Linked DNA regions of Homo sapiens. The protein of the gene in region 2 interacts with the protein of the main gene of each other region in a pairwise test. Each region holds a gene or a part of one and is shown on either strand. Other genes may lie near its edges. The genes, in order: NR1I2 and NUCB2.

The links.
Region 1: the proteins of NUCB2 (region 2) and NR1I2 interact in a two-hybrid assay, tested with the Homo sapiens proteins (one study listed by BioGRID).

Annotation. Positions count from the first base shown.
Region 1 is NC_000003.12:119,801,042-119,817,098, reverse strand, and holds part of NR1I2 (nuclear receptor subfamily 1 group I member 2), read right to left. Parts: intron 9,871-16,057; coding exon of another isoform or gene 9,849-9,870; coding exon 9,652-9,848; intron 7,039-9,651; coding exon 6,905-7,038; intron 5,561-6,904; coding exon 5,373-5,560; intron 4,414-5,372; coding exon 4,139-4,413; intron 2,121-4,138; coding exon 1,978-2,120; intron 1,777-1,977; coding exon 1,660-1,776; intron 1,374-1,659; coding exon 1,268-1,373; intron 32-1,267; coding exon 1-31. UniProt on the Homo sapiens protein: Nuclear receptor that binds and is activated by variety of endogenous and xenobiotic compounds.
Region 2 is NC_000011.10:17,278,304-17,291,164, forward strand, and holds part of NUCB2 (nucleobindin-2 isoform 1 preproprotein), read left to right. Parts: intron 1-4,485; 5' UTR 4,486-4,640; intron 4,641-8,330; exon of another isoform or gene 8,331-8,414; intron 8,415-12,861. UniProt on the Homo sapiens protein: Calcium-binding protein which may have a role in calcium homeostasis. Acts as a non-receptor guanine nucleotide exchange factor which binds to and activates guanine nucleotide-binding protein (G-protein) alpha subunit GNAI3.

The DNA.
Region 1 (16,057 bases), on a different chromosome or scaffold from region 2:
GAGCATAGCCATGATCTTCAGGAACAAGAACCTGCATGCCAGCCAGAGAAAAGATTGTGGGTGCAGCCCGCCCTGACCCACAAGCCTCAGGGCTGCTCTGAGGCTGCACAAGCATAATCTCTGGACATTTCAGGTCAGCCAAGAGACAAGGCTTGGCTGAATTCCGTAAGCTTCTCTTTTACCCTGTAGATGAGAAAGGCAGAACAGCCTGCCCAATACTCTCCCCACTCCCATCCCATTCATGGGAGCTGTGTCTTTTTTTTTTTTTTTTCTTTAAAGGGACAGGATCTCGTTCTGTCACCCAGGCTAGAGCATGATGGCACGATCATGGACTCACTGCAGTGTCAAACTCCTGGACTCAAGAGACCTCCAGCCTCAGCCTCCTGGGTAGCTAGGACTAGAGCACATGCCACCATACCTGGCTAATTTTTTAAAATTTTTCTAGAGTTGGGGTCTGGCTATGTTGCCTAGGCTGGTTTTGAACTCCTGGCCCCAAGGGATCCTCCTGTCTTGACCTCTCAAAGTGCTGGGATTATAGGTGTGAGCCACGACACCCAGCTGCGGGAGTTGCATCTTTGTACACAGAGACTTCCGTGGGAAAATGTAGATATTGCAGCTACCAGTTTGGGGGTGTGGGGCTGTCACTGCCTTCGTTAATGTCCAGGGGCCAGGACTGAGCAGAGTCGTTGTGGAGGTTAGGGGCTGCAGGCTGGAATCCCTTCCTGGAACTAGCTTTGGATCTAGTGTCTGAGATGTACCATATGCCTCAGTATCCCCATGATGGAAAAGAAAGTTGGCACTTCCAGCCTCCTGCCTCCATACAAGGAAGGGTTGAGCAAATAAAGACATGGCCACTCCCAGCATCCCAGGACACCAAGCCAAAAAGAAAGCTGTGCAGGCCAAATAAGGATTTCAGTTTATAGGTTCACACTATAATACTCAGTGTTGGCCTTAACCCTTCATGGCCTTGGGCTCCGTAAAATCCAAGTTTGTCTCTGGGTCTGTGGGCATCAGTCTGGGCAGTAGGTCACAGGAGCTACTGAGGACCAGTGAAGGTATAGAAGCCCCTTTCTGGGCCACGTCCCCCTGTTTGCTTGTGTTTTTCCTGGGAAGTGGTTAGGTAGTGCTCAAAAGTGTGAGCTTTGGACCTGGTCTGGCTGGGGCTACCTCCAGATGCCACCCTCTGGCCATGAAGTCTTGGGCAATTTCCCTGAACCTCGGCTCCCTCACATCACCCTCACGGGTCCTCACCCCCTGCTGTGCTCACCTATGAGCAGGCTGGGGCCGATTGCATTCAATGTAGGACTTCAGAGTAATGGCGAATTGCTCCTGCAGCTGGTCCACCACGCGGTGCTGCAGCACACCTGGGCGGTCTGGAGGGGAGGGAGGTGTGGTGCAAGATCATGGGGCAAAGACAAGCTCAGTCCAGCCCAGAGTCAGGGCATTGCTCGCCAACCACCCTCCAGAGCTGGAGTCACCCAGGCAGGGAAGTGAAGGAAGACCAGGGCTGGGCATCACCCACTGACCCCAGGAGAAACCAGCGAGAGCCCCCATCCTGGCTGCGCAGTGAATGAGGAGCAAGGCCATAGACTGGGACCTTCCCTGGGGAGGGCAGATAAGGCTGGGGGGGATGTCAGGCAGCCTAGGGGAGATCCTCACCTGGGGAGAAGAGGGAGATGGCCTGCATCAGCACATACTCCTCCTCATGCAGCTGCAGCTTCTTCAGCATGTAGTGGAATTTCAGCATGGGCTCCAGTAGAAGTTGCTGGAAGCCACCTGTGGATGGTAACAGGATGGAGGGGCAGCTTCTCAGCAAGCTGACCAAGATCTAATCATCCCTCACCAATATCTTGTTTTCCACCATTCCATCTTCCTGCCCTGCCATCCCAGAACCTGCATATCCTGGCGTAGCTCCCTTCCTCCCATAACTGCAGTGTTTCCCTCCCTCTGCCAGGGCAGGCAGGCTCTCTCGGGCACCTGCAGTGTCTTCCAAGCAGTAGGACAGCCGGCCACACTCCCAGGTTCCAGTCTCCGCGTTGAACACTGTGTTGAATCTCAGTTGACACAGCTCGAAAGCGGCCCCCTTCAGCAGGGAGATCTGGTCCTCGATGGGCAAGTCCCTGGCAGCAAGGATGGGGAGGGGAGGACAGCTCCCTGGGAGGCAGCCCACAGACCGGCACCAGCAGCCATCCCATAATCCAGAAGTTGGGGGCGAGAGGAAGAGGGAGGATGGCTCCTTTCCCTGAGGATGACTGTGGCTGCTGTCTGGCTGCCTCTCATCTCTCCCCTCACAACCCAGCAGACAGCTCTGCCCCGCAGCATCCTCTCCTCCCCTCCAACCTCCGGGAACTCCACCCACTGAGCTTGGCATCCAGGTCCCTTACAGGCTGGCCCCATCTCCTTCAGCTCCTATACAAATCCTGACCTACAGCTAGTGCTTTGGCTTCTGGTCCCTGGCCTCCTCCTTTCTGCCTCAGTTTCCCCCTTGGAATGACTTCCCCTTTAGTATATCCTGCTAGCCCCTCAGGCCATGCTATGTCTTTGCCCCTCTCAGAAGTCTTTCCAGAGTGCAGTCTCCCCTTTCCAGAGTGAAAGTGCCGCCCTTTTGGCCTGAGTTCCAGTAGTGGGGATGTTTGCTTCCTGCTGTCGGTGTTGGGTTTAATGTGCACACATGTATTTCTACTGTTTCCCTGCAGCCCAGATGCCTGAAGCCCCACTCCTAGCGCTGAAGCACAGGCCTAACCATGGAGGCGGCTTAACAAGCCTCTGAGATTATGGTTACATGGATACCCTTCCGGTCCTGCAGGGATCACTCCCTCCCAACCTGGGAGGGGCCCCCACCTCCCCAGTAAGGAGGCATTCCTTACAAGGAGGAAGCTTCACAGCCTGAGAGGGAGGCTGCTTACTCTGGGTTTTGAGGAAACACTACCTCTTGGCCTTGGGAATTCAGACCCTGTGCTACTGGCGCCCATCCTTCTTTTAGATCCCTAACACTGAGCTACAAATGCCATGTAATTGATCTTATTCTTCTGTGCCTCCCCATTGCCCAGCTTAGGACCTGGCATCGAGCTGGCTTTGGTACTTCCAAATCTAGCCTCCACCACTGATTAGCTGTGACCTTGTACAAGTTTCTTATCCTTGGGGAACTTCAGTTTCTATCTGAGAATGAAGATGGCAGTGACACCTCAGGTCACTGTGCTCGACATTGGTGGCCTTGAGAAATAGCAAGTGGGAAGCCCTGGTGTTAAATTGTCAGTCACTGGATTTCACCAAAGATCTCCCAATGTCCACATTTATAAGTATTCTTCTCTCCCTGCCCCTTTAAGCTTATTTGCTACCATCTGAACCCCATTCCAAACCTGCTGTCAGCATCACCCCATTAAATAAGTCACGCATGACTCCTACAGGGCCAGAGAAGAACCTCTGGGCTCCTAGAGTATAACCTACCCTCAACCTGCTGAAGAAACCAGGAGCTTGTGGCAGGTGTGTTTCAGCCCCACTTGACCAGGCTTGGCAAGGCAAGGTGGCCTACCCAAGGACAGATACACCTGGCACCATCCCTAATCCTACGACTGCACACATATTCTGGGGCTGTGGTTCCTGCCACCCCAGGAAGTTCCCATGTCTCCCACTAACCCCAGTTGCCCGATGGTTGTTGCCTCCACATCTAGCTCTGGGGAGACCTGACCCTTGGGCTCTGAGGACCACCCGCCCTCCCCATGGCCTTCACAGCCTTATCTTTTCTATTCCTCTCATTCCTTGCTCTGGAACTGTCAACATGTGATTCCTGCCCCTTTAAGGGAGAGTACAAAAGACTATCTGAATGCCCACTCTGTGCTGGGTGTTCTTCGGATGTGTTCTTATTTCACAGAACAGCCCTGCAGGGGAGGCATTTTTAGCTTCCATTGAGCAGGTGAAGAGGCAGAGACACTGGCAGGCCCACAGCCACAAAACTAACCAGCCATACAGCAAGGGCTCTACTCCCCAGCAGCACTGGCTGCCCGGGGAAAGGGCACAGGAAAAGGAGGGTCTTCTGACACCAATATCCCCCAAATTCAGGATCTACCCCAGGCCCTTTGAACCTCCTGGCCACTTCCAGTTCTTTTCCACACCCAACCACCCAGTCTCCATGTCCTACCTGAAGTAGGAGATGACTTTGGCAAAGCTGATGATGCCTTTGAACATGTAGGTTGACATGTCAGCCATGTGGGGCAGCAGGGAGAAGATCTCTTTCCCGCCACTGTCGGCTGGGGGTTTGTAGTTCCAGACACTGCCATCCTCCCCCCGCAGCTGCAGAGAGACCTTCAAAGAGCACAGATCTTTCCGGACCTGGCTCCACTTGGCAGCTTCTTCCCTCGATGGGGCCTGCAGAGACTCTGGCAACTCGCAGCCACTGCTAAGCACCCCTGGCAGCTAGGACACATGCCAGGAGGTGGACAGAGGAGAGACAGCATGTGCTTTCATAGACAGGTCCCAACTCAGGCCCCAGCCAAACATGCACAGCCACAGTTGCAGCTCGAGAGGATGCACAAATGCAGGCATTCACACCCACATGCATGCGTGTGTCCTCACACATATACACACACAGCATTTGTTTCTTCTCTCTGGTGTTCTCTATCAGATGAAGGTGCTTTGGGGATCTATGAATTAATGGTCACACACATCCCTGCTTGGTTAAAATGGAGGGTAAGGGGGACTGCAACCATGGTGTGTCATCCCAAGCATTCCAGATGTTGGGCTCAGGAGACTCAGAAGGTTTAGGGTGCTATGGATGGGAAGAGCAGATCTGAGGTCACTGGGCTAATCCAGTTATTTGGGCTGTGAAGGGCCACTTGAGATATCTATCAGTGCAAAGGGGAAGGAGGGCACTTAGAGCACAGACATAGTTAATGTGCTGGGATCAAGAAACACCAGTTCACAAAAGTCACACCCCCAACAGGTCCTGATCCTGTCCTCATAAAGCCCCGAATGCCAGCAACACTGGGGAACTGCCTAGCTTTCCCTCCACTTATTGCTTAGACCCAGTTCCTACCTGCCTTAAAGGAGAGAGCAGTGATTTTTCAAACCTGAACCTGCAACAGAATCACCGGGGGGTCCTGCCCCTCCCTGGAGCTTCAGATTCAGGAGATCTGAGGTGACCTGAAAATCTGCATGCTGATGCTGCTGACCCAGGGACCACACTTTCAGAACCTTTGGGAATGAGACTAAGGCTTTGAGGAGCTAGCACAGATGCAGGACCAGCTCTCCAAATCTACCCTCCACCACTGATTAGCTGTGACCTTGTATAAGTTTCTTATCCTTGGGGAACCTCAGTTTCTATGTGAGAATGAAGATGGCAGTGACACCTCGGGTCACTGTGCAGTTCCTCCTACCCGGAAATTCTTGAAATGGGAGAAGGTAGTGTCAAAGGTTTTCATCTGAGCGTCCATCAGCTCCCTGATCATCATCCGCTGCTCCTCTGTCAGCCCCTGCACTCCCAGTGGCTGAGTCCCTGTCCGTTCACTTTTCTTCCGCTTGATCAAGGCCCGCCTCTCCTCCACGGCCTCGTCGGACATGATCACTGCAGGGACAGTGAGGCTGGCTCAGGCACACGTGCCCCTGGTGAGCCTCCAGCCCCCTGGAGAGCCACTGTGTAACCCTCTCAAGGCAGCAGAAGCCGTTAGGCAAAAGAGAAAGTAATGGTGACAAGCAATTCTCCCCTGTCTGGACTCAAGAGGCCTGTGGGCTCTTCTGGAGAAACACTTGGGTGAGGACAGAGATGAGGTGAGGCTGGTGTTTTGCCCTCTGCAGTGGAGTTTGTGAGGACACTGTGGGGCCCTGGCAAGAGCACGGGCTTCAGAATCCAAAGGCGCTGGGTTTGCATGAAAGCTTTGCCACTTACTACCTGTGACCCCAAGCAACCTCCTTAACCTCTCCTGCCTCCAGGTTTCTCCTTTGTGATCCGGAGAAACCGTGTTTACCTCGCACCGCTGTTAAATGAGACCTTGCATGTAGGGTGCCTAATATAGTTCCTGGTACATAAGAGATGTTCAGTAAATGGCATCTACAATTATCATTTTCTGGTGAATTATATACCAAGACTCTTCAGAGGTGTCTGGGTCTCCAAGACCCTAGAGAGCTGGGCTACAGCTTAGCAAGAAATAGCAACTCCAGAGACTTCTTATATAGCCCAGAGCCTTAGGGTCTTCTGTGGATTTCTGGAGCCCACTCATGTGTGTAGAACAAAGCTATGAGGTCCTTGGTGGGGAGAGATCAAGAATGCCTGCCAGCAGCCTAGAGAACTTGTCCTTGAAAGAAGCAGCTTTGGGTCCCTTTGTGTTCCATGGAGACAAATATGCACTAGAAACACCTAGCCTTTTCCGCATGAGCCTTAATCTCATAGTGACCTAGGAGCACAAATATATCAAAGTTAAATAGGTAGAATGAGAACACCTCATGTCACCTGTCTGCAAACAGTTCCCCTATAAAGATCCAGGTCTGGGGCAGCTGATGGGGCTAGCACCTAGAAGGCCCCGGGTCCTATCACCCATGTGGCTCCTGCTTCCCTCCCCCAGATTCACACTCCTACCCGCAAATGTGGTTTCAAACCATTACAACAATTATGAAGGGGACAAAAAGAATGATGCAGGAGCAACTGAGGGGAGACAGAGGGCACGCCCTGTCCAGGGCTGCCCAGCACACATCCCAGGGCAGAGATTACCGACTCCCTCCATCTCCCAGAGGGCCGACTGCAAGCGCTCCCCCAGGTGGCTGCCTGTTGCACACGGACACCAGCTCACATGTGCACGTGTGTTCACGCGCACACTCGGCGCGCATCTCCACACAAGCATGCCCACACCCACGGCACGTCCTTACTCAGAGCCGTGCACCCCGGCGCCGGCCCGCCCGCGCGCCCACTGCTCACTCTCCTTCTTCATGCCGCTCTCCAGGCACTTGCGCAGGCGGCAGGCCTGGCACTGTCGCCGGGTCTTCCGGGTGATCTCGCAGGCGCCCTTCCGGAAGGGGCACCTCAGCCGGGCGTTGCGTTTCATGGCCCTCCTGTGAGAGAATGGGGAGCAGAAGGGGGGATGCACGGGTGCCCGGGCCCTCGGCCTGGGGCTCCGGGCCATACCACCTCCCTCCCCAGCCCCTACCGACTCGGGGAGGGGGACACTAGCCTTTGCGTCCCAGCTGGGTCAGGCTTTATGGGAAGGGTGTAGGTGGGAGTCCCTAGAGGTCCAGGACTCAGCTAGAGGGGGCAGAGCCGGGGAGGAGACCTTTTCTGGCCATTCCGGCAGGAAATGGGACACGTGCTTTTCGCTGGCGCGGGCAGCCCCAAAACCACTTTCAGGGACACTTCCTCTCCAGGCCCATCCTCAGCGCCTTCCCTTCTTCCTGAAACACCTGTCCCCTTCTCTTTCACAGCCTTGTTACCAGAAAGTTTCCATGGAGATGGGCCTCTTCCTCGATTTCCCCTCCTTAAGGGAGGGAGCTGAGGAAACCTGACCCCAGGAGGGTAAGAAACCAGAGAAGCCCGCCCCACCCCCCCGCCTTCCCCCCCGCCTTCCCCCCACCCCCCGCCGCCTTCTCCAGCTCCCCTTCCAGACTGGGCGGCCAGGGAGGAAGGGGTGAACTATGGGGAAGTTCTTATACCCTACGGGGCAGCGACTTCCCCATGGCAGAGTGGATTCCCCTCGTTGACCTAGGGGGCAAAGAGGTCGAGCGCCTGGAACAGCAGAGCGTGCAGGCGGGACCCACGGGCCCGCACACCCCTCTCTGCGGTGCGCAGAGAGGCAATGGGGCAGATGCCTTTTGGAGACTCTGGTACAAGATCTCCTCCTCCCAGCCCGGAAGTCCTGCCTGTCCCACAAAAGACACGGTCAGTGCAGTCCTACCTTTACTTTCCCCATCTCCACAGCTGGATGGAAAGAAACAATCTCTCCCTTGGCTCTGGCCTCTGATTCTGGTCCAGAGTGGAAACTGAGGGAAGGCTGGCCCAGGAGCATGGAACAGCCAGGTAGGGCTGCAGAGGTCCCCGAGGGCAGGCCTGGGAAGCTGAGCCAAGCCCGCAGTGACCTGGCAGGTTTGAGCTTGGAGGCCTCGGGCCTCGGACCAGTGACCAGCCCAGGGGCATGTTCTTCACAGATGCCATCCCTGCCTTTTGCCTTCCCAACTGGCCTGGGTAAGAAAACTCTGATGCTACATCAAAGTCCACTGAGAATGGGTAAAAGATGAAACCGGGGCTCACATTATTTAAAGGTATGCTATGTATCAGATGCTAGGCTAGGTATTTTGCAGTTTTGTAAATTTAGTTCTAAAACCCTGTGAAACTCATAATCTCATCTGCCTAGCACAGATGAGGGAGACTGAGGCTTGGAGACGATGGATCCCCAGCTGTCCTCCAGGTACATGACAAGCTGAAATTTGAATCCAGGTCTGCCTGATACTGGATTTAGCTTTTGCCCACTACAACATGTTGCCTTTTTCTGAGAGTCCCAGGAATAGTACCCAAATGAGGAAGGGAGAGCAGAAGATTCCTGCATGCTGAGGCAGGATGCACGAACACTGCTTGGGCAGCCTCTTCTGTGCCAGCAGCATCTGGAGCTGGTGCAGACATCCACCCTCTTCCACACAGTCAAGTGGCGTGTGCCCAGCTCAGGGACATACCTGCTGCTCTTTGCTAGTGACTAGTTCAGGCATAGGCTGGGCCCGGCTCTAGCCAATGTGAGGGGACTCCTGGGAAAGATTTCCTTACTCTCAAAGATGGGCCTTTGTGCGCTTCTGCTGAACATAATGATTCCTGCCTGGGGCCCCAGCACTGTGCCCCCACAAGGGGAGCCAGACTGCAATCAGAGCTCTCAGGTGGGATGGCTGAAGAGAAAAATGGAAAGAAATGAGCTGCTGAACTCACTAACCTGGAGGCCTTCAGACTTCCTGTTAGGAGAGGTAACACATTTTCCTTATTGCCAAACCAATTGGCGACAAGTGTCCTGTGACTTGTAGCTGAACCCAGTCTGACACTGCTGATGTGTCTCACCCCTGTTATAACTCATGCAACACGAATGTTCATTTCTCCCTGGAACCTGCCCTTTTCCATTTGAATGCCCAGCCACCACGAAGAACTCTGCAAAGGGCTGTCAGGCTGGCTGTCTTGGGAATGCATGAGGGTCCCACATGTGGCTCCCGAGATGGGAGCTGCTCCTTGCATACCCTGTGCCCTCCGGAGGGTGCACCTGGAGTGCTTCCTCACACATGGCTTTCTCCCCTCCCCGCCCTTCCCCTCCCTTCGGTCTGTTTCTCTTCCCATGGTCTAAGCATTTATTTTATGCCATTCTTTATGTAACAACCACCCCAGAAGGCGGATGTGAACACTTGGATTTGGGATTTTCAAATTCCTTATCTTTCACTGAGTCATTTTCCATTTTATTCAAGAGCACATGGAGAAACCAAGGGATATCTTAATGGAAGGAGACCTTTCCTGGGTAGAACAGGAAGACTGAAGATGAAGGATTCCTCTGGGATATAAATGGCTCCCTTGAGACTAATTACAAGGCCTTTGGGTGGGCCACCAGCCCACACTCTGAACCTGGGGGACAGGTCAAGCTGAGGCCCTGAGACGTTACCCAGTGGGTCAGTGGTGGCACGTGGGTGAAGGCTGATGGGTAACTCTACCTGAAAAAGCCCTTGCATCCTTCACATGTCATGACATTGAAGTGATAGCCAGTGGCCTTGTCCCCACATACACGGCAGATTTGGGGACCTCCGACTTCCTCATCTGCGTTGACACTGGGCTTTCCAGGAACAGACTCTGTGTCCTCACAGTGTACAAAGTCAGCATGGTTCCAGCTTTCTTTGGGTCTCACCTCCAGGTTTGCTTCTGGGCCTCTTGGACTAGAAATGAGAAAACCACAGAGAATGAAAAGACTGGACAGGGATGTGTAGAGGCCTCAGAGGAAACACTCTGTCCCTTCTATGCATCACTCACATTTGGGCCTGTGAACTCGGGAGCTGACCTCTCATGGGGAAAAAAAGCGGGGAATGGGGGTTGGAATTGTTATAAAGAGAGCTGTAATCATGACATTTTGTACACAAAAATAGAGCCCTGGAGTAGAACATGTGAACAGGAGCATGGGAAAGATAAGGGTAAGAGGGAGGAAGAAATGAGAAGAAAAGAGAGCAGGCTGTCTGGGTCGGATCATGGAGGCCACAGCTGAGTGGACTGAGGTTAGGAGGCCACAACCTGGCCAGAGGTCTGAATGGGGAGCAGCTCATGGACAGATTACTTGTTCAAGATGATTTCTGGGACTGGGGACATTGAGGGAGGATAGTCTTTCAGGTGGGGTGTGGCCCAAGCTCCCACAGGGAGCTAGAAAGGCTGAGCAGAAAGAGTTTTCAACTAAGTAGCCAGGCAGATGGGGAAAAAGTGGAGGCATGGTGGGCAAGATCACAACATGGGAAGAAAAATGGCCTGTGGTCCCAGCAGAGCTGGGGTCTCAGTGAATATTGAAGAACTTGTGCCTATTAATAGAGCTGTAGCTAAGCATGGTGGCTGATGCCTGTAATCCCGGGGCTTTGGGAGGCTGAGGCAAGAGGATCGCTTGAGCCCAGGAATCTGAGACCAGCCTGGGCAACAAAGTGAGATCTCATCTTTACAAAAAATAAAAAAAAACAGCCAAGATCGATGGTGTGAGCCTATAGTCCCAGCTACTTGGGAAGCTGAGCGGGGAGGATCTCTTGAGCCTGAGGGTTTGAGGCTGCAGTGAGCTAGAATCATGCCAGAGCACTCTAGCCTGGGTGATAAAGTGAGACCTCATCTCTAAAAGAAAGAAAAAAAATTGAGCTGTACTCAAGGATGTCCTCCCCAGGCAACTTCCACCTTGAGAGCATAACTTGAATTCTACTTGGAACAGACACTGAGGATGTTCAGTAGAAATGGGGGATTGTCCTGTTACTACCATCCCCAAAATTCTCTCTAGGCACTGACTGACAAGGGCAGACACCACCACAGATGACGATGCTTTTTCTAATGCCAAAATCGAAACTTTAGTAAAATTCTAACACATAAATTTCTGTTTCCAACATCATGACAGGTGACATCTGACAGTTTCACCTGTAAGAGTAAATAAGGAATTAATCTGTCTCTGACCCTGGCCCTCCATTACACTGTGAATAAAATACATTGACTGGAAACCTGAACTGAACAGGCACAGGGGAAAATCCCTGATTTTTCAAATCATAATCCTGACTTTATGTAGGCTTGCAGACAAAATGTATACTTTAGGTGTTCACAAAAACCTCAAGCCAAAAAGTTGATTTAAGATTTAAAGTGCATTTGGGTTGGTAATTCTCCCAGACACCCAACAGAAATCCTCCTTTTTTTTCTTTTCTTTTCTTTTTTTTTTGGTGGGGGGGAGGGGGGGACCAAGTCTTGCTCTGTCACCCAGGCTGGAGCGCAGTGGCTCCATCTAAGTTCACTGCAACCTCTGCCTCCCGGGCTCAAGCGATTCTCCTGCCTCTGCCTCTTGAGTAGCTGGGACTACAGGCACCCACGACCATGCCCAGCTAATTTTTGTATTTTCAGTAGAGATGGGGTTTCACCATGTTGGTCAGGCTGTTCTCAAACTGCTGACCTCAAGTGATCTGCCCGCCTCAGCCTCCGCCTCAGCCTCCCAAAGTGCTGGGATTACAGGCGTGAGCCACCGCGTCTGGCCAGAAATCCTCCTTTTTGGGGGAACTCACTTTCCACTTTATACCTAGGCACAAATAATCACATATAATTTCAAAGAAATATGAGCAAATACTCAGAAGTCATGAATGAAAAGACTGGCACAGCATGATGAGCAAGAGTCAGCAAAACAAAACAAAACAAAACAAACCAAAAAAACTTCTAGAATTAGACATGAGAAAATGCCCTGAGTTATCAAACACAGAAATGTTTAAATAAACAGTACGAGAGGTTGAAGACATAAACAAAGAATAAACGACCATAAAATTGACCAAGCAGATTTGAAAATGAATAAAAATTTACTGTAAAAATCGGAATAAACAATGACTTCATAAACCAATAATAATAATATCTTGGGAGTTAGGAAAAACAAAATACAACTAAAATATGGATGGATGCAGTAACTAAGGTTCTGTATTGTTGAAGGGAAAAAAAGATGGTAAATCTTAGATTTTGATTAGTAAAGTGTGCTTGTTGAAATGTCTAGGGTTATCATTAAAAGTCCAAAAATAGAATGCATAACTTGGAAGCTAATAGAAAGGAAAAAATGGAAGGAAAAAAGTTCAAAAGAAGGCAATTAGAGAGTTAAGAAACTGAAAGGGTGAGACGAATAGAAAACACAGATGTATGGTAGAAATACCAAATATGGGGCTGGGTGCGGTGGCTCATACCTGTAATCCCAGCACTTTGGGAGGCAGAGGCAGGCAGATCACCTGAGGTTAGGAGTTAGAGACCAGCCTGGCCAACATGGTAAAACCTCACCTCTACTAAAGATACAAAAAGTTAGCCGGAAGTGGTGGCGGGTGCCTATAATCCCAGCTACTTGAGAGACTGAGCCAGGAGAATCGCTCAAACCCAGGAGGCGGAGGCTGCAGTGAGCCGAAATCGCGCCACTGCACTCCAGCCTGGACGATAAGAACAAAACTTCGTCTCAAAAAAAAAAAAAAAAAAATACCAACTATGTTGGTAGTTAAATGTAAATATATTAAATGTAAATATATATGTATATATATATTTTTTGAGACGGAGTCTCGCTCTGTCACCCAGGCTGGAGTGCAGTGGCATGATCTTGGCTCACTGCAAGCTCCACCTCCCAGGTTGACGCCATTCTCCTGCCTCAGCCTCCCGAGTAGCTGGGACTACAGGTGCCTGCCACCACGCCTGGCTAATTTTTTTGTATTTTTTTTAGTAGAGACAGGGTTTCACCATGTTGGCCAGGATGGTCTCGATCTCCTGACCTCGTTATCTGCCCACCTTGGCCTCCCAAAGTGCTGGGATTACAGGCGTGAGCCACCGTGCCTGGCCATTAAATGTAAATATATTAAAAGACACTGTGGGACTGGATGTGGTGGCTCACGCCTGTAATCCCAGCACTTTGGGAGGCTGAGATGGGTGGATCACTTGAGGCCAGGAATTCAGGACTAGCCTGGCCAACGTGGAGAAACCCCATCTCTACCAAAAATACAAAAATTAGCTGAGTGTGGTGGCGCGTGCCTGTAATCCCAGCTACTTGGGAGGCTGAGGCATGAGAATCGCTTGAACCTGGGAGGCAGAGGTTGCAGGGAGACAAGATTACGCTACTGCACTCTAGCCTGGGCAACACAGTGAGACTCTGTCTCAAAAAAAAAAAAAAGTACACTGAGAAAGATGGTTTCAGCAGGTAGCTGCAGCAATCTTAGGTTCAGGATTAGTGTTTTGGGACAGATTTTGTATTAGAGAATATGGGATGGAACAGATACCAAAATGGAAAATAATGATTATTCAGGTCCTTTGTAAAAGGTCACTCATTGTCTTAGTGCATTCAGGTTGCCATAACAAAATATCGGAAACTGAGTGGCTTATAAACAACAGAAATTTATCTCTCATGGTTCTGGAGGCTGAGAAGTCCAAGATTAAGGCACTGGTAGATTCAATGTCTGGTAAGAGCCTGCTTCCTGTCATCTATGGCACTTTCTCCCTCTGTCCTCATATAGTGAAAGGGGCTAGCCAGCTAGCTCTTTGGGTCTCTGGGACCTCTCTATCTCTCTCTCTCTCTCTCTCTCTCTTTTGAGACAGAAAAAAAAAAGAAAGAAAAGAAAAAACTCTGCCACCCAGGCTGGAGTTCAGTGGTGTGATCTCAGCTCATTGCAGCCTCTATCTCCTGGACTCAAGCGATCCTCCAACTCAGCCTCCTGGGACTACAGGTGCATGCCACCATACCCAGCTACTTTTTTTTTTTCATTTTTAGTAGAGGCAGGGTTTCCCCATATTGCCCAGGCTTGTCTGCAACTTCTGGGCTCAAGTGATCACCTGCCTCAGACTCCCAAAGTGCTGGGATTACAGGCATGAGCCACCACACCCGGCCTCTGGGGTCTCATTCATGAGGACACTAACTCAATCATGAGGGTTCTACCCTCATGACCCAATCACCCCCCAAAGTCCCCATCTTCTAAAGCCATCACACTGGGGATGAGGATTTTAACATACGAATTTGGGGGAAACATAAACATTCAGAACATGGCACTCATTTATTCCTCATAACAATCATCATAGCATTTATCATATTGCTCAACAGACATGTGTTGAGCATCTACTACACACCAGATATATTCTGTTATGTATTCCAAATAACTTGGAAGTCACTCTTATGACAAAAACCCAGGGACTTTACATAACCCTCTAACTGTTCACAGACACAAAGAGTGTTCCAAAATCAAAGAGCATCACAGGCAGGCAGAGAAAATGTTATTAGCAGGATAGTATTTCAGAGTGTACATTAGAAGAGACCAACCTCCCTTACATTTTCAGCATCATTCAGGAGCCATGAGGGATAGCAGCACCTGGGGCAATGGAGACAGTTGGCAAAGATTCTGCACATCAATTGTGAACTTTGGACAATTGAAGATGGTGAGATGCTGCTTTCTCGCAATAAATATAAATGCTCTTCCCCATAATGGAAGTGACAAGTACAACATGACTACATGAATCACAGGAGAAGCCCACAGGTGACATGGACCAAGAAGATAAAAGAAATATCACCAAAGGACCAGAAAAAAGACATTTACTTAAATCATGTCTAATTTACACTTTCCCCAATTTCTTAATGAGGAGATAGTAGAATTAATGCTAGAATCTCATTCCGCAGTATTTGTATAACTTTCATTTTGTTTTGCCCAAGTGTTAAGCAAGCCGACTCTGGCACATTCTATAGTTCCTTCTCTCATATGCTTATGAAGCCCCCGCTAGAGAACCCATTACAGCTGTTATCCAAGGTGGCCCCCAGGAGCCATGCCCCGAAAGATTCACACCCTTGTGCAGCCCCCTCCCATAATGAGTCTAGGATGGTCTGTGACTTGCTTAGTTAATAGAATGTGGGGAAGAGACAATTCTGGGTCTACGCTATAAGAAGCCTGGTAGCTTCTGCTTTTGTCTTTGGAGAGCCCTAAGCCACCATGCAACAAAGTCTGGCTACCCTGCTCAGTGACCACCCAAAGAGACCATGCGGAGAGGCCATGTGAAGAGGGAGAGGCCTGAGATCGCACCGATGAGACAGGACCAGCCACCCCAGCCTCCCGGCCGCCCTCACCAAACAGCAGATGTGTGAGTGAGCCCTCTTGGACTCCCCAGCCCAATTATGCCTCCAGGTGACTGCAGCCTTGGCCAAGGTCCTGTGATGCAGAAGAACTCCCCAGCTGAGCCCAGCCAACACAGAAAATCATGTCAGAAAATGAAACAGTGGTGGGTTTAATCCAGTGAGTTTAGGGGAGATTTGTTACACGGCAAGAAATAATGGAAGTGGAACCCCTGGAGTTGGGTTAGAAATAGATCTGAACTGTGGTGATGGGGGAGCCAGCCCAGCAGCTGCAGTCCTGCTCCCATGCCACTCTTCCATCACTGTTCCTTTACAGAATGTTGCCCTCTGGGCAGGAAAATGACAGTGACTGGGTGTCTGAGGTGTGCCAGCTACATCTCTCTTTCATGCAAATTTAGGGAGACCAATTAGATGTGTACTTTTAACTGAATACAACTGTGTTTGCTTCTGAGGGCTCCACCTGCTTCTCACGGTGCTTAGTAATCGGTGAAATCTCATCAGAAGAAGGTTGAAAGGATCATCTCCTGTACTGAGTGAAAGTAAACACTTCTTCAGAGAGGGCTTTGCAAAGATAATTAATTGTAAAATCCGGTATGCAGGGTAAGTATTAAAGCTAAGGACTACGTTCTCAGAAAGGAAGAATATAATTCATTTATTTAATAAATGAGTGAATAAATCAATGAATTTAGTCTTTCTACGTGACTAAAATTGTCAGTTTGCTGAAGGCACTGTCAGGCTGCACTGAGCACACACAGCCCCTCTCCTCTTCAGGTGAGTGATTC
Region 2 (12,861 bases):
TAGCTGGGATTACAGGGACCCACCACCACAGCCAGCTAATTTTTTGTATTTTTATTAGAGACGAAGTTTCACCATGTTGGCCAGGCTGGTCTCGAACTCCTGACCTCAGGTGATCCACTTGCCTTGGCCTCCCAAAGTGCTGAGATTACAGGTGTGAGCCACCGTGCCTGGACGACCCATGTTCTAAGAGTCGAATCTGTCTATGTTGTGTTTACCTTTCTTTGCTCTCCCAAGGTACATATTGTTCATATCACGTATTTTGTATATATTCTTTCAGCATGCTTTTTGCCAAGTTGGTTTGCGCTCTGTGAATAACAGTTGAGATAAAATGCACAATTAAGACAATTAAGGTACTTTTCAAGACACAACTAATTATGGGCACTAATATCAATAACATCAATTCAGATGTCTTTTTTGTTTTGGGATATGTTATTAATCTCTGAACACATACTAAACTAATTTTGCATTACTTAGAATAATATGTAAATTACTTTCCACTTTCTAAGGACCCTTTTGAAGGCTGGGTTCTACAAAATACCCTTTTGAGTACTGGGTAGCTGGCAGAAGCAAGTGCAGGATTTAAAAATGTATTGAAAATAATCCTTTAGGCCGGGCATGGTGGCTAATGCCTGTAATCCCAGCACTTTGGGAGGCTGAGGCGGGTGGATCACTTGAGTCCAGGAGTTCAAGACCAGCCTGGCCAACATGGTGAAACCCCGTCTTTACTAAAAATACAAAAATTAGCCAGACGTAGTGGCGGGCATCTGTAATCTCAACTACTCAGGAGGCTGGAGCAGGGGAATCGCTTGAACCTGGAGGCGGAGGTTGCAGTGAGCCGAGATCGCGCTATTGCACTCCAGCCTGGGCAACTAGAGTGAAACTACGTCTCAAAAACAAAACAAAAAACAGGCTACTAACAATTTCAAATAATTTATTCAAGGAAAAACTTCAATCACTTTCATTATTTCCAATCAAAAATTTTTTTTACAACCATGATGTGGTGAAAAGTATACTTAGTTAGAATTTCATGGCCAGATTCCAGTACGGGCTCTGCCAAACGAACTTGGCCAAGTCAGTTAACTTCCTTCTGTATTTATAACCTTTTATAAAAGTAGGGCTGAATTAGATTACAGTAGTCCTCCTTTATCCTAGAGGGATATGTTCCAAGGGTCCCAATGGATGCCTGAAACTACAGGTAGTACCAACCCTTATATACGCTATGTTTTTTGCTATACATACATAATAATAAAATGAATAACAGTAATACACTGAAATGAAAGTTATATGAATGTGATCTTTCAAAATATCTTGTTTTACCTCAGGTAATTGAAACTGCAGAAAGTGAAATCGCAGATTAGGGAGGACTACTGTACCTCCAAGATTATTTCTGATCTTAGAATTCTCTGATTCTAAAATCCTAAAGCAGCCTAATAGAAGTTCAGATAGTAGTTACTTGATTTTATTTTTGGCAGAGCATTTTTTTTTTTTTTTTTTTTTTTTGAGACAGGGCCTCACTCTGTTGCCCAGGCTGACTGGAGTACAGTGGTGTGATCATGGCTCACTGCAGCCTGGAACTGCCAGGCTCAAGTGATCCTCCTACCTCAGCCTCCTGAGTAGCTAGGACTAAAGGAGCATGCCACCACACCCTGCTAATTTTTAAGTATTTTTTTGTAGAGAAGAGGCCTCGCCATGTTGTCCAGGCTGGTCTCAAACTTCTAGGCTCAAGCGATCTGCCTGTCTTGGCCTCCCAAAGTGCTGGAATTACAGGCATGAGCCACTACACCTGGCCTTGGCAGAGTTTTTTTTGGCAGTGTATTTTAATTATCTGAAGTACAGTATATGTAAATAATAAAGAGATTATAATTTTAATAATATGTTTATTGAGTGATACAGATCTGTTTTTCATAAGCCTATAATCTAGGATACTCCAATCCGTTGTTAAGACTGGAAAAAAAGGAGATATAATAGTTTCATTGATGAGTGTCCTTTTCTACAGATGTAGACAACAGAGGCTCTAAGATCTATACTAATGTCTTGATCAGGGAAAAGCTGGAGTCCAACTCAGCTGGTCATACACTTGATATTTTATTTGAACCTCACTTTCCTGTTGACTTTCATTTTCAAAGGGAAAATGGAGGTGAGCACCAGGTTATCTGTGGCCTTTGAAACTGGTGCCATGGAGAAACTCAAAAGCCGTTTATTTTTCTTCACCCTACCCTGTTTCATCATTAGATTTGTGACATTGATAGTAAGAAGAAGCAATCCACGTTTCCTAGCTCAAGGCAGTGTCTTAGAGAAGGAAACCTGAGTCTCTTGCTACAGTTCTGATTTAAGGTTGGAAGGAAGAGATTATGTTGGATGCATTGCTTTCATTGGTCTATGATTGCATCAGGACTTTGGTTCTGGCAATGTTCAGAGAAGAGCTCTAATGTGGCCTTTCAAAAATGACTGTAAGACCGGGCATGATGGCTCAGGCCTGTAATCCTTGGACTTTGGGAGGCTAAGGTGAGCAGATCACTTGAGCTCACAGGTTTGAGACCAGCCTGGGCAACATGGTGAAATCCCATCTCTACCAAAAATATTAAAAACTAGCTGGGCGTGGTGGTGCGTGCCTGTAGTTCCAGCTACTCTGGAGGCTGAGGCGGAAGGATGGCTTGAGCCTGGGAGGTGGAGGTTTTGATGAGCTGAAATAGCGCCAATGTACTCCAGCCTGGGTGGTAGAGTCAGACCCTGTCTCAAAAAACAAAAACGAAAACAAAAATTACTTTTAAAGTTGTATGTCAAACTGGTCTTGCTTGCTTTTTGTGTCGTTAATTTTTATTTATTTATTTTATTTATTTTTTTTAGACAGGGTCTTTCTCTGTCATCCAGGCTGGAGTACATTGGTATGCATGGCTCGACCTCCTGGGCTCAAGCAACCCTCCCATCTCAGCTTCCTGAGTAGCTGGGACTACAGGTGCACACCACTACACCCAGCTAATTTTTTGATTTTTTTTTGTAGAGGTGGGGTTTCACCATGTTGCCCAGGCTTGTTTTGAACTCCTGGGCTCAAGTGATCCACCCGCCTCAGCCTTTCAAAGTGCTGGGATTATAGGTGTGAGCCACCATGCCCAACCTGGTCTTGCTTTTTAAGTTCTACCACTTTGGGTGTTTACAGAACAGATTTTCATATTTCTTTATGTTTCCTTTTCAAGACAAGAAGGGCATTAATATTTATTGAGCAATTACCATTGTCATGCACTGTGCTGGTTACTTTGTATTCATTCTTATTTTCCTCGCATCAACAAACCTGTGAAGAGGTATGAGCTCAGTTTTCTAGGTAGGAAAATCAAGACTCAGAGGCAAGTAGCTTGCGAGTAAATGGGGGAAGTTAGGATTTAATCTCCTGTTTGTGTGTTTATTTTTTACCATGTTGTGTCAATAAAAGTCATATAACTTTCCAAAATACAACATGCATGTGATTACTCTCCTGCATAGATTATTTTATGTTAAATATACCATATGTAAAACAAGAAATACATGTCTCCTTAAAATTTGAAAATATTTTATTTGCTTTTTTTTTTAACAGACTACTTAGAAATAACTGCTTATGTTTACTAATGAGTTTGCACATGAGCTGATTTATGTTTTACATGTTATTTGGTGGGGTTTCAAAAAAGAATTTGAAATATTTCATCTTATTACTGATCTCTGTGACAAACTAGGAACAAAGTTAATTTTTTTAAATTGGTGGTAAGAGTAAAGAAAAATTCCAGTTAAGGATTTAACAGGAAAAGTTGCCCTATATCTTGAAGTCTCATTGCTGAAAAAAATAAGCTTTTAATCTGAATTCCTCCTAGTTATTCAAGAGTGGAGGAATACAGGAAAATTTGGGCATAATAAATCTATATCTATATCTATATATCTATATCTATATCTATCTATCTATCTATCTATATATATATATATATATATATTTTTTTTTTTTTTTCCCAAGACAGAGTCTCGCTCTGTCACCCAGGCTGGAGTGCAGTGGCATCATTTCGGTTCACTGCAACCTCTGCTTCCCAGGTTTAAGCGATTCTTGTGCCTAAGCCTCTTGAATAGCTGGAACTACAGGCACCTGCCACTATGCCCGGCTAATTTTTGTATTTGTTTAGTAGAGATGGGGTTTTACCACATTGGGCAGGCTGATCTTGAACTCCTGACCTCAGGTGATCTCTCCACCTCGGCCTCCCAAAGTGCTGGGATTACAAGCAGGAGCCACCGTGCCCGGCCAACATCTTTGTTTATTCCGGTTTTTGATTCTGTTTATTTCATGTATCTTTCTCCCCTCCTTAATGGAATATGATATAATTTAGTCTCCTTCCACATCATAAAAATTTGGCACTTTTCACATTATGTGACAAATGCATACACTATCATGTACCATTACCACTGTAAAAAGTCTAAATTTTGTGATTTTGTGTCTTTTATTTATTTATTTTTATTTTTTTTTACATTTAGAACGTGTTACGAGTCAGTTTTTAGTGAAAAAACATTGAGCTAGGAGCCAAGACCCATCTCTTCACTATTTTGGTATTGTGCAAGTCATCTTACCTCTCTGGATCTCAGTTGTCTCATCTGTAAAAAGGAGATAAAAATTATTTACCTGCCTGAACGTAAGTACTCAATAATTGCATTTGGTTGCAAAGAAACATGACTATCACTACCACCACCACCAAAATACAAAAAAGGAAAAACCAAAAACGAACTCACAGATGGCTTAAACATGCAATATTTATTTTTTATATAAAATAATAATTGAAATAGCACTCTAGGATGGGTATAGTGGCTTTATAAAGTCATCAGAGACTTAAGCTTCTTTCAGTTCTTTTATCAGTGATCCCTAAGACATTCTTGTAGTACTGGTTCTTGTATGTCCAAGATAGCTGCCAGAGCTCTAACCATCACTGTCATGTTCCAGGCAGCAAAGCATAGGCGAAGAAAGATGCATCCTCTTCCTTTAAGGAGAATTCCTGAACCAAGGCTGAGGCTATAAGAAAGCAGGGAAATGTAGCTGACTGCATGTCTGCCCTCTATAAAATTGGGCTTTTGTTACTGAGAAGGAAGGAAAGATTTGGATATTGGCAAGCAAATAGAAGTGTCTGCCATGATATGAATCTTTTTATCTTTCAGCTCTGAAATCTGTAAGCTGTGATAACCACTCATAGAAGCTTCTATAATTTGCCATGGCAGAGATATAAGTCTGACTATTAACTACAGAAGGAAATAATCTTCATGTAATAAATTGTGTTTCTGTTTTTACTTTTAGCCCTTAATTCATTATAGAAGCTTTTCTGTCTTATTTGTGGATTTGTTCTGGTTATTTTTTAAAATTACCCATAAATGCTCAATAGATGTTTGTTGTACATTTTATGGTTGTGTTAAAAAGAGCTAACATTTATTGAGCTACTTGCTATAATCAAGGCACTAAAATGACAGAGATAAGTTATCCCAAGGGTATCACATAACTAATCATCAGGAAGTAAATTTATATTGAAAGTAAATATAATTCATCTCAAGATACATTTCACTATGGTCACATGAGGAACACTTGCCTTCCTTGCTAGCTAAAAGTAGTTTGTTCTTTTTCTTTCCTTTCTTCTTTTTTTAACCACTTAACTGTTAGTTGTCTTGAAATTTTCTCTTACTACTAGTTCTTGCTTAACTTATTTAGCCACACCAATATTTTATTTCCTTCCAGACTTTTATTTTTTTTGTTGAGACGGAGTCTCACTCTTTCACCCACGCTGGAGTGCAATGGCTTAGTGCAACCTCTGCCTCCTATGTTCAAGCGATTCTCCTGCCTCAGCCTCCTCAGTAGCTGGGACTACAGGCATCCACCACCACACCCAACTAATTTTTGTATTTTTAGTAGAGATGGGGTCTCACCATGTTGGCCAGGGTGGTCTTGAACTCCTGACCTCAGGTGATCTGCCTGCCTCAGCCCCCTACAGTGATGGGATTACAGGAGTGAGCCACCGTGCCCAGCCCCTTCCAGACTTTTCTTTGTGAATATTATATAAATATACCCTATACTTGTCCTGCAAAATGGTTCAATTGTCATTATTTCTATTTCAAAAGTAAACTGAAATAAATAGCTTTGAGAAAAAGAAATTCAGGGAATGGAAATTGGAGTGAGAAAGATTCTAAAGATTCAGTCAATCTTTTAGAGTTTTTAGAAGGGAGACAGTAAGTTAAGATTTTATTTCTACACAGTATATTTGTATTTTTGAAAGTTTTTACATTTTTTGGTTGTATTAGATAGGCACAAAGTACAGTAGTTCTTTTGCTGCTAGTATTGCAGTTTCCTTTTTTCTGATCTAGACTTGTTGACCTCAAACAAAATAATCAGGAGACTTGTGACCATAAAAACAACCCAGTTTTTAAGAGACATTTAACGTTATAAATCACCTGACTGAGAATGTCTGTTTGGTGAATACCATTTTCATGACTTTTAATTTTTTTTAATTAACAGAAAAGTATCATGCTATGCATTGTTTTGTAAGCAGCATTTTAAAAATTGCAATTGTATTTAATAGCTTACCTTCCTCACTAGATTGAAGCCCTGTGAGGGTAAGGACTATGTCGATCTCGCTTACCTTTGTCTTCTAGCATAGTATCTGGTACCATAGTCATTACTTAATACATAAATATTAGTTTAGTTTTGTTTTTAGAAACAAAGTCTCAATACATACATACATACATACATACATACTTATAATAGGTTAAAGGAAACATGCTTCAATTCAGCCATTAATTGAAAAGGAAGAGGGGCAAAAGAAGAGGGTTGAGGAAGATGGAAAAAGATACATAAAAGAGGCTGGGCGCGGTGGCTCATGCCTGTAATCCCAGCACTTTGGGAGGCCAAGGCGGGCAGATCACAAGGTCAGGAGATCAAGACCATCCTGGCTAACATGGTGAAACCCCGTCTCTACTAAAAACATACAAAAAAATTAGCCGGGCGTGGCTGGGTGAGGTGGCTCACGCCTATAATCCCAGCACTTTGGGAGGCCGAGGCGGGCGGATCACGAGGTCAAGAGATCGAGACCAGCCTGGACAACATGGTGAAACCCTGTCTTTACTAAAAAAAACACAAAAAATTAGCCAGGCATGGTGGCATGCGCCTGTAGTCCCAGCTACTTAGGAGGCTGAGGCAGGAGAATTGCTTAAACCCAGGAGGCGGAGGTTGCAGTGAGCTGAGATTGCACTACTGCACTCCAGCCTGTGCAACAGAGCGAGACACTGTCTCAAAAAAAAAAAAAAAAAATTAGCTGGGCGTGGTGGCGGGCACCTGTAGTCCCAGCTACTCAGGAGGCTGAGGCAGGAGAATGGTGTGAACCCGGGAGGCGGAGTTTGCAGTGAGCCAAGATCGCGCCACTGCACTCCAGCCTGGGTGACAGAGTGAGACTCCGTCTCAAAAAAAAAAAAAAAAAAAAAAAGATATATAAAGGAGGAACAGAGACTACTTCCAAGGAAAGAGAAAATTTTCAGTTTTCTGTACTTTTCACCCTGGTTATCTATGGTAATTTTTTTTAACCACTTCCAGGATATCTTGCCCAACAATCAAAACAGGAAACCATCACACATACATGCGCGCACGTGTGCGTACACACACACACACACACACACACACACACACAAAGCAAACTTAATCTGTATAACTATGGGTATAAATCAGTAGCTAAGAAATCTGCCTCTGTGTATGAATGGAAATTTTATTTTTTGAGACATGTTCTCACTCTGTCACCCTGGCTAGAGTGCTGTGGCGTGACCATGGCTCACTGCAGCCTCAACCTGCTGGGCTCAGGTGATCTTCCCACCTCATCCCCCACCAAGTAGCTGGGACTACAGGCATGTGCCACCATGCCCAACTAATTTTTGTATTTTTTGTAGAGACAGAGGTTTCACCATATTGCTCAGGCTGGTCTTGAACTCCTGGGCTCAAGGAATCCACCCTCCTTGTCCTCACAAAGTGCTGGGATTATAGGCAGGAACCTCCGTGCCCAGCAGAATAGAAATTTTGACTTGGTTGAGACAGGGGAAGAGAGATTAGCTTTCTTTTAGGACTTTAAAATTTAAGGAAATTATATCTACTGAATACTAAGAGAAGCTTAAGAACTCTGCTTACTTTGTAATTTTACCAGAGGCTCTGATGCCTTTGGGGTCAGTGCCTCCCATTCTGTCTTGAGATGACTACATAATTTAGAATTTCACACCATCCTACTTTAGAGAGTAAATTATCAGCCTGTCCTGGTTTGGATGAGTCTACTGTTTCAGCCTGGTTCAGCCCAGTGTCTCCTCTTTAGGTCCGTATCTCTCTTATGAAAGAAGAGGGTGATAAAGGAAAGGAGAAGGCCATTCTTACTGACCTGATAGTGGAAGAAAAGTAGGTTAGTTCTCCTTCTTCCTATTGCCTGTCCTTATCACTCATCTCTTTCTTCTATATGGATATTTGTATATTTTCTCATTCATGAAAATCTGTAAACCTAGTAAATTTGCTGTTATTCCTTTAATGCAGACACATTTGACATCTTGGCATTTAAAGAGACTTTTGTGTCATTATTTTTCTGCCTAATGTGCTGGAATACTTACCATTTTTTTTTTAAATACAGTTGATGTTTATGGAGGCCTTATTAAGAATTAGAGTCAGTGTTTAAATTAATTGTCCTAGTTATGTCTAGAATAAGCACTAACAGATTAGAAACTAGTAGAAAACATTCTCCATCAATCAAAAATAAATTTAAAAGGCAAGAAAGGAGAGGAAATAAATGTTAAAGAGGTAGGATAAATAGAAAGCCCTACCAGCCTGAGCAACATAATGAAACCACAACTCTACCAAAAAAAAATATATATATATATCACCACGCATGGTGGCTTGCTTGTGGTCCCAGCTACTTGAGAAGCTGAGGCAAGAGGATCTCTTGAGCCCAGGAAATCAAATTTGCAGTGAGCTGTGAGCTCACCACTGCACTTCAGCCTGGGTGGCAGAATGAGAACCTGTCTCAAAAAACAAAAAAGCCCTATAGAAGGTGGTAGATTTAAAAATCAAGATATGGTATTAAGGCCGGGCGTGGTGGCTCACACCTGTAATCTCGGCACTTTGGGAGGCTGAGGTGGGCAGATTGGTTGAGGTTAGGAATTTGAGACCAGCCTGGCCAACATGACAAAACCCTGTCTCTACTAAAAATACAAAAAATTAGCAGGGCATGGTGGCGCACACTTGTAGTCCTAGCTACTCAGGAGGCTGAGGCAGGAGAATCGCTTGAACCTGGGAAGTGAAGGCTGCAGTGAGCCAAGATTGCACCACTGCATTCTAGCCTGGGCAACAGAGCAAAACTCCACCTCAAAAAAAAAAAAAAAAAAAAGATACGTTATTAAATCAACTTTAAGGGCTAGATGTGGTGGCTCACTCCTGTAATCCCAGCACTTTGGGAGGCCAAGTTGCATGGATCACTTGAGGTCAGGAGTTTGAGACCACCTTGGCCAACATGGTGAAACCCAATCTCTACTAAAAATACAAAAATTAGCCGGGTGTGGTGGTACCCACCTGTAATCCCAGCTACTTGGGAGGCTGAGGCAGGAATCGCTTGAACCCAGGAGGTGGAGGTTGCAGTGATCCGAGATCGCGGCACTGCACTCCAGCACGGGCAGTAGAGTGAGACTCTGTCTCAAAAAACAAAAAACAAAAATGGCTTGAAGAAATCACCATTCCTCTCCCCGGTAGAGAGAACAGTGTTGTATGGGAAAACACAAAAGGTAACAATTCAAGAAAGTGTTTAAAAATACTTGGACTACAAAGGTGAAGAAGTCCTTAGAATACCTTTATCAATTTATTTCGTTTAATTTCTTTATGTGTGCATAAAAATGATGTGAGAAAAATCTATGATATGCCTAAAAATACTTTCAGCAAACATAAGATAGAATTGTAAGTGAAAAAGCACGGTGGTGTAATTTAATTGGCAGCATTTTTTTCTATATAGTATACAATGGTGTGTCTTAATATCGATGGAATCTTTTATCCCACCCTGAGGTCTCTGTCACCCAGGCTGGAGTAAGGTGGCACAATCATAGCTCCCTGCAGCCTAGAACTCCTGGGTTCAAGCAGTCTTCTTACCTCAGCTTCCTGAATAGCTGGGATTACAGGTGCAAGCCACTGCACCCAGCCCAATGGAATCTTAAAGCCTATTTATTTTATTTTATCTTTTTCTTCTTCTTCTTCTTCTTCTTTTTTTTTTTTTTTTGAGACAGTCTCATTCTGTTGCCCAGACTGGAGTGCAGTGGCACAATCTTGGCTCACTGCAACTGCAACCTCTGCCTCCTAGGTTCAAGCCATTCTCCTGCCTCAGCCTCCCGGGTAGCTGGGACTACAGGCATGCGCCACCTCTCCAGGCTAATTTTCATATTTTTAGTAGAGATGGGGTTTCGCCATGTTGGCCAGGCTGGTTGCAAACCCCTGACCTATGGTGATCCACCCACCTCAGCCTCCCAAAGTGTTGGGATTACAGGCATGAGCCACCGTGCCTGGCCCTTAAAGTCTATTTAATAACATGTATATACACACACACACACACACACACACACACACACACACACACACACACACACACACACACACACACACACATATATATATATATTTTTTTTTTTTGAGATGGAGTTTTGCTCTGTTGCCCAGGTTGGAATACACTGGTGCAGTCTCGCTCACTGCAACCTTTGCCTCCCAGGTTCAGGAGATTCTCCTGCCTCAGCCTCCTGAGTAGCTAGGACTACAGGCGTGTGCCACCATGCCCGGCTAATTTTTTGTATTTTTAGTAGAGACAGGGTTTCATCATGTTGGCCAGGTTGGTCTTGAACTCCTAACCTCAACCAATCTGCCTGCCTTGGCCTCCCAAAGTGCTGGCATTACAGGCGTGAGCCACCACGCCCAGCCTCTTCATACCCTTTTGCTAGAGATTTTCTTCCAAGCACCCTATATTAATTTTACAAGCTTTACAAGCTTGGTGCTGGTGCTTTCTTCATCTTATCAGAAGATGATGACAGGAAGTTTTCAGATTCATAGTCTTTCCTCAAACTCTCCTTAAATGATTCATTGATGAAGACCTGGAGGGCTGGCCTTCATGAATCACACCAACTTGTATTACTTTTCAGGCAACCTATTCTTTATTCAGATACACGCTCTCAGAATGTATCAAGAACTAAACTAATAAACACACTTGTCAGGTTATGTAGTGCTCTTCAACATTCAAATCAGATTTAGCTACTCTTCCTTTAGCTCAGCCACCATCCATCAACCCCATACTTCTTAAAAATGCTTAATATAACATCTTGGGGGAAATCATTTTATAATTTAATGTTTAATATGGCAACAACTTTTGGCTGTAGGCATTTACAGCAATGTTACAGTGATTTGTTATTTTCTGACCATTCTCGTATCAATCTTTTTACCACCTTTAGCATTAATGTAGATTTTGAGGCATGTAAAAGAACATCAGGATTTTGTCAGAATTTCCTGTTGACTAAACTCAGCTTTATTTTTTCCTTAAACTATACTTTGCTGGAAGTTGTGCAGCTTCTGTTCAGTATTTTCAGGAAGTTCCTGACAAATTGACATTTGCATGAGTCCATCAATTCAGCCTCATGTTCCTTGAGTTTTTTTATTTATTGGAGGCATAGTTGGTTTCTGCTATCTTCATTTGCATTGTTTGGCTGCTGATAGGTAATCCTGTTGTGTTTTACTAACAAAACGTAACATGGCTTTGTCTACTTGCAGGTATCTTCCTGTCTAGAGTCAGGTAAAGCACTAGTTGTTCCTTTATAAGAAAGAGTAAAATTGCTGTTATTCCCCTAATATCAAGTATTTGCTTCACTAACATCAGCTGCTTTGTTTCTGTGCTTACAAAATAACTTTTCATTTTAATGCCAAATCATAGCTTAATGTTTATGAAGATATTTACAATGACAAGCACCAACAATGCAAAAACTCAATCTGAAGTTATGACAATAATAATAACTATAATAAAGTTCATGCATGTACACATAACAAAGACTATGTTGCTGTTGCTATGTGGCTAATTACAATTTTCATATTCCATTAATTGAGGCTGGGTATAGTAGCTTATGCCTCTAATCCCAGCACTTTGGGAGGCTGAGGCAAGAGGATTGCTTGAGCCCAAGAGTTTGAGACTGGCCTGGGCAACATGTTGAGACCCTGTCTCAAAAAACAATAAAAAAAATACTAATATGGTTGGGATATAAAGGTCAGTCATGAGATAAAAGATTAAATTTACTGTAAAGCTAGAAAATCTTAAGTTTATATATATATACCTAATATTTGAATAAAAATTAACAGAATTATAAGGAAAAAGAGACAAAATCATGATATAAGATTTTCATGTGCTTTTCTAGTGATTGTAGAACAAGCAAACAAAAATCATTGAGAACATAGAAAATGGGATAATTTTGAAAAATTATAAGCATGACTAGTGTAGAAGGTGAATAGTGGTTCATGAATTGTATTTTTAAAATTTTTCACATTTTATAAACTTGGATTTTTTTGCTCTATTTTTACTCCTTTTAAAAAAATTGAAATATGATTTACATATCATACAATTCTCTCTTTTATAGTATACAATTCACTGGCTTTTAGTATATTCATAAGGTTATGCAACCATCTCAACGATCTAATTTTAGAATATTTTCATCACCCCCAAAAGGAACCCTGTACCCATTTAGCACTTATTTCTCATTTCCCCTCCCTCCACCAGCAGCCCTCAACAACCTGTAATCTGCTTTCTTTCTCTGTGGATTTGCCTATTTTCCACATTTATATAAATTGAA